2 separate regions of the Homo sapiens genome follow, and region 2 is linked to region 1. Evidence: fine-mapped expression QTL. A gene starts in region 1. The other region holds a variant in brackets. All regions are shown on one strand. Distances are from middle to middle.

Region 1 (2,895 bases):
TGAGGTCACGCAGAAGGTGGCTTGCTGTAGCTCCTCACCTGTCCCTGCCCCCCTTCTACCTAAAGAGCAAACCTGGTGCCTTCTCTCTGGGGCAGGTAGGGATCTAAAAAAGCCAGGCTGGGCCGGGTGTGGTGCCTCACGCCTGTAATCCCAGCACTTTGGGAGGCTGAGGCAGGTGGATCACCAGAGGTCAGGAGTTCAAGACAAGCCTGGCCAACATGGTGAAACCCCGTTCTACTAAAAATACAAAAATTAGCTGGGCATGCTGGTGCATGCCTGTAATCCCAGCTACTCGGGAGGCTGAGGCAGGAGAATCGCTTGAACCCAGGAGGCGGAGGTTGCAATGAACCGAGATCGCGCCACTGTACTCCAGCCTGGGCGACAGAGCAAGACTGTCTCAAAAAAAAAAAAAAAAAAAAAGTCAAGCTGGTGCAGGGAGGGTGAAGCTTAGGACAGCTGTCAGCTGGTCCAGCAATGTTTCCTCCTGGCCCAGGCCTGAGCCAGTGCTCTAAGCTCAGCCTCACTTGTCGCCTTTATCAGTGGCTTCTCTGCCTCCACCCACCTGATTGCTGGAGCTTCTCCAGCACACCCAACTGAGATAACACACCCAGTCCCTATGGCTCCAGGGCGGGGACTTTCGCTTGACCTACTGCCCACCGGGCAGGCATTTCTTCTCATTCTCTGAACGCTGTCGGGAGGTAGGCAGGAGACCTGAGTCTTTCCTGAGGTGGTCTTTTCTGGCTGAGCACTTCTCTCTGGGACTCCCCACCTCTGTCATAGGGTTGTGTCCCTCTGTGACACCGGCGTCTGAGTCTAACGTCCCAGCCTTCCTTCCTCCCTCTGCCTAGTCTAATAGCACCCAGCACCTAAAACAAGCCAGAGGGCGGCCAGGGGCCTAGGCTAGCCCCCGGAGGGTCTACTCAGGACTCAAGTGCCAGGAGGGAGGCCTGGACTTTTTTGCCTTAAGGGCTGGAGACCCAGGAAAAGTTCGAAGAGGAAACGCTCATCGCAGCTATACGAGCGTCCACCCTGGACCAGGCGGCGAGTGGGTTGGAGGAGCAAGGCTGGACAGGAAGGGGGCAGGGGCTGCCACGGCAGGCTCGGGAGAGCCCCACCCCCAGATCTCCCTCCGGGCGGCGGCGCAGGCTGCAGCGGAGGAAGCATTTCCTCATTCCAGAGGCTGCGACTCATGGACGTCGGGATCGGCGCCCGCCCCCAGCAGCTCCCCGTCTGGGGACACGGAGGCCCGGGAAGGGGGCGCTTTTCCAGGCTCCTGCAGCCAGGCCTTTCCCCGTGGCCCTCCCCGCCCTGCGCACGCAGTCTGGGCTCTGTCCAGGGTCTCGGGAGGCTCTCGGGTCCCGGCCATCCCTGTTTCGTGGCTGGGGGAACTGCGGCCCGCTCCGGCAAAGCGGGGACCCGAGCCCTTGCCGCCGGTTCGCAGGAGCCCCGGGTTCGATGCTCTGTCAACCTGCTTGGGGTGTCCGTTTCCCGCTCTGCGAGGTGGGGTCAGGCCAAGACGAGGAGGAGCCCGCGCAAGCGCACTCACCACCACGGCGGTGACCGGCTGGCCCGGGATGTAGGACATCTCGACCCTGCTCTGGTCGCCCAGCGCCGCTCCGAGAAGCCGGCAGCAGAGTACCCGCGGTCGCGCCCTCGCTGCTTAACAAAGGCCGCCCCGCTCGGCCCGCCCCCTCATGAATAGTTAACAAACCTCCAGCCAATCACTGGCCGGAGCGCCACTCCGCTTTCGGAAGTCCCTGCGCGTGCGCAGAAAAGCGGGCAGAGGGCGGAGCGTGTCCGGGGCGCCCACGGCGCAGGCGCGGAGGGCGGGGCGGGATCTGGGCGCGTGCGCAGCCCGAGACCTCCCGGCAGTCTTCCGAGCAAGATGGCGCCGCGGGCATTTCTTCCACTGCCCGTCTGAGGGAACGCTAAGTAGTGTGTCCGGCGCCGTGTTCCAGGTAACTGGGCCACCGTGGCCGGGGAACGCAGACGCGCCACCACCTCCCGGCCGGCCCGGACCCTCAATCTCCTCGGCGTCTTTGGAAGATCCGAGGCCCAGGACTGGTGCCAGGTCTCGGAAGCTCCAGGGGGAGGGGGCGGCGTGAACCCAACTCACCGAGCTCCGGGCGCCACTTGTAACTTGGTTTTCTCCGCAGCTCCGCGTTGTTCCGCGAGAAAGCGAGAGGCCGAGCCCGGGCTGGTGCGATGGCCGCGGTGGTGGCCAAGCGGGAAGGGCCGCCGTTCATCAGCGAGGCGGCCGTGCGGGGCAACGCCGCCGTCCTGGATTATTGCCGGACCTCGGTGTCAGCGCTGTCGGGGGCCACGGCCGGCATCCTCGGCCTCACCGGCCTCTACGGCTTCATCTTCTACCTGCTCGCCTCCGTCCTGCTCTCCCTGCTCCTCATTCTCAAGGCGGGAAGGAGGTGGAACAAATATTTCAAATCACGGAGACCTCTCTTTACAGGAGGCCTCATCGGGGGCCTCTTCACCTACGTCCTGTTCTGGACGTTCCTCTACGGCATGGTGCACGTCTACTGAAATGGGGGCCCGGGGGACTTTTTTAAAAAACCAGATCGGGAGGACTGTGGCCAGCAATTAACACCATGTAGACTTCCTTAGTTCTTAAGTGGTTGAATTCGCTGCTTGTTCTGTAACGTTATAAATAATTTATATCTGAAGACGGAGAGCCTGTAATATTCTTCAGATTAAATGAAGCGTGAGACACTTTGTGGAGTTCTTTCCTGCTGTAACGCTTAGGCTGCCACTGATGCAAAATCGCCGAGATTTGACTCCTGGAGAGCAAGGAATGGGCCATAGCCTTGTGTTAAGTCCTTGTATTTACACATAGGCCATTCAGAAACGGGCCCTAAGGGCCTACATAAGGAAAGAACTTAT
Region 2 (2,895 bases), 76 kb before region 1:
GCAGCAGCTGCTGCAGGAGGAACTGGGCAGAAAGTGCCTGGAGGACCCCCCCACTGCAGGAGGCCAGGCCAGGGTCCCCCAAGGGGTCCCAGCAAGGTCCTGAGACAGGAGACCCCTGGGAACAGGAAATAACGGGTTGGAAGCCAGAGGAGTCAAAATTGCCCCGGGGGCAAGGAACAGCAGCAGAGAGAAAGGCCAGAGGCTGTGACTTCCAGGGACAGGGACCATCCAGTCAGCAGGGGGAGGCAGGGACTTCTCAGGGTCAAGAGAGGAGACATCAGATCGGGGAGGCAGAGACCCCCAGGACCAGGAGAAATCAAGCCAGCAGATGGGAGAGGCAGGGACCCCCTAGGATTAGGAGCCACCAACGCAGTGGCTGGGACAGGGAGTAAGGATCCCAGAGAAGCAAGGAGGCCCAGGGACAACCATGCCCCCCTGCTTCCCGGTGCTGCGGGCTGAGCCATGCCCGGCCCCGCCGCCCTCCTCACCCTTGTAGTAGCTGTCCGTGTAGCTGGCGTTGACAAGCTCCTTCAGGCTGTCCGTTTGCCGCGCGATCTCCAGGAGCAGGGGGATGGTGGTGTTCTGTCCGTCGTGCAGGTTGAGCATGGCTTTCAGCAGACAGGTCTTCCCTGTCTCAGGGTCTGAAAGACATAAGGGAGGGTCAGGGCAGGCCAGGGCTGGGGCCCTCCCCGAGCCCAGCGCTGGGGCCACCTTTGAACTCGTTGTCTGTGAGGTGCTTCTTGCTCTTCTGCAGGAAGAGCAGCAGGCTCTCCAGATCCTGGCAGTTATTCTGAGCAACGGCTTCAAAGATACTCCTGCGATCATAGAGCCTGAGGGTCTTCTCGGTGCTGGCGGCGACAGAGTCCTGGGACAGCAGCCTGTGGGCCAGAAAACACGCTCGTCTCATACCCTGGCCTCCCCTCGGCCCTGAGGCCTTCGGAGCTTGTCAAGGGAACACGACTAAATCCCAAGGCAAACCAAAAAGGGGAAAAATGATATAAAAGCTGCCCCTCAGTCTAGGTGACTGTCCAGAAAAGCAATGTAACAGGGACAGTGGAGGGCATGTGTCCCCATTCTGTCCCCACCCTGTCTATAGACACCATCTAGAAAGTCACCCTCCTACTCCCAGACCACTGGCTTCTCTGCCTGCTCGGGAGCTCGGGAGGCAGGAGCCTGGTGGGGACGGAGGGAGGTGGAGGCAGGGGTGTAGACAGCCCCTCTAAGGGAAAAGGTGGCCTCACACTCCCCAGAAGTCAGCCAGCCTGTGGCCCTCCCTGCCCTGCCTTGCAGCTCACTGGAGCTGTGCTGTGCTCTCCAAAAGCCTCCTGCCCTTGAGCTTTTAGACTTCAAGTCCAAGTGTCTGTGGCTGGTAGGCATTGCGGGCGTGGACACCTAGACCCAGCACAGACACCAGCCCCCGTGACTGCACATCCCACGAGGTCACATGAGGAAGGACGCTGGACCAGACCACCCCTAAGGCTCTCCAGCCCCCTGGCTTTGTGACATTTAGCCCAGAAGCCAGACCACCCTGTGGCATCTCCATGGCCAGCTGGGCTCCCAGCAGGGAGGGGGGCTCCAGACGCGGACTTACCTGGCACCGGTGGGGCCGTCTCCTGGCCTC[T/C]GGATGGTGATAACAGGGCTGACTGTGATGGTCGGGCAGGAGTCCAGCTCACCTTCCTCGTGAGGGCAATCCACCGGGAAAGCCTCCTCCGAGTCACCCTTCCCAAAGAGCCGGGTGCGGCTCTTGGCCGTGGAGAGCTGGGGCTTGGCTGGAGGTGGCCTGGAGTTAGGGTCTCCATCCAGGGGGTCTGGGCAGGTGTCCTTTTGGAGTGGGTCCGCAGCTGCCCCCAAGTCTGTGCTGCTCCATTTCTTCATCCTTGCTGGATCCTCTGTGGCCCAGTGTGCAACCTGCAGCAGCCACCACGCCGGGGTTGACTCCCAAAGTAAGGACTGCTTGTCCTTAGACCCCACCTGCCCTCCTTGCCAAGGGCCCTGTGAAGCAGGGTACCCCAAAACTCCAACTTGCTGCTGCCCCCAGCCCCCTAGAACTGAAGTGTTTCCAGGACTGAACCTCTCACCCCAGAGGCCTCAGAGGTGAGCAGGCCTAGCAGGGCCCAGGCAGTCCTGCGGCCACTGACGTCGGCCTGGGAGGGTGGACAGGCCCCCGGCTCAGAGCCATCTGTGGTTCTGGGTTAGACCCATCCCTCCTCGTCTCTGGGCCTCAGGTGCCTCCTCTGCAGGGTGAGGTTGATAACCACCGCGCTGCCTCCCTCCCCACACAGAACAAGGAAAACGGCCGGGGTGGCTGTCGTGGGCTGAATTCAGGGAGGATCTCGGTGATGAGGATGGCTCAGTCCAGAAGAGCCAAGCAGACTGTGTCCCTGGAATAGGGTGAGCGGCAGAGACTGGCCCACCCACACCCACACCGCACTGCGGGGCCCTGCTGTGCAACGGGTCCACACATCATCAGCCAGGTGCCCGGCCTGCCTTTGCTCTTCAACCTCGCTGCCACAGCCACTGAGCTTATACGAGATTTTGGATTTTGTGCTTTTTGTCATTTTTATGAATCAACATCTGTCAAGCATCCTGGCCTTGAATGTTTAGGCGTGTGTGTGTGTGTGTGTGTGTGTGTGTGTGTGTGTGTGTGTGTGTGTGTGTGTGTCTGTGTGTCTCACTCTGTCGCCCAGACTAGAGTGCAATGGGGCAATCTCTGCTCACTGCAACCTCCACCTCCCAGGTTCAAGCGATTCTCCTCCCTCAGCCTCCCAAGTAGCTGGGATTACAGGCGCCCGCCACCATGCGTGGCTAATGTTTGTATTTTTAGTAGAGACAGGGAACGTTTAGGCTTTAAGTGATTTGGAGCTGGTTGGTCTTCTAGGCCTAAACACCTAGAGA

The links. PIP is the estimated chance that this variant, and not a neighbour inherited with it, causes the effect.
Region 2: its variant is fine-mapped to the expression of TAX1BP3 in whole blood (TOPMed, PIP 0.97).

The regions. Positions count from the first base shown.
Region 1 is chr17:3,666,942-3,669,836 of GRCh38, forward strand. TAX1BP3 (Tax1 binding protein 3) reads right to left here and starts at 1,637. Exons shown (of 4, transcript NM_014604.4): 1 at 1,547-1,637. The coding sequence starts at 1,585. It overlaps EMC6 (ER membrane protein complex subunit 6), which reads left to right and starts at 1,871. Exons shown (of 2, transcript NM_031298.4): 1 at 1,871-1,958; 2 at 2,157-2,724. The coding sequence starts at 2,206. The coding sequence ends at 2,538. P2RX5-TAX1BP3 (P2RX5-TAX1BP3 readthrough (NMD candidate)) reads right to left here. Exons shown (of 15, transcript NR_037928.1): 12 at 2,117-2,895. RefSeq lists enhancers at 431-962, 963-1,493, 2,026-2,556, 2,557-2,895 and a silencer at 1,585-1,924.
Region 2 is chr17:3,590,476-3,593,370 of GRCh38, forward strand. TRPV1 (transient receptor potential cation channel subfamily V member 1) reads right to left here. Exons shown (of 17, transcript NM_080704.4): 3 at 1,592-1,908; 4 at 712-878; 5 at 489-641. The coding sequence starts at 1,875. Among named protein-coding and RNA genes, the nearest start is that of TRPV1, 17 kb to the right of the region's middle. The variant T/C (reference allele first, on the strand shown) is at 1,622.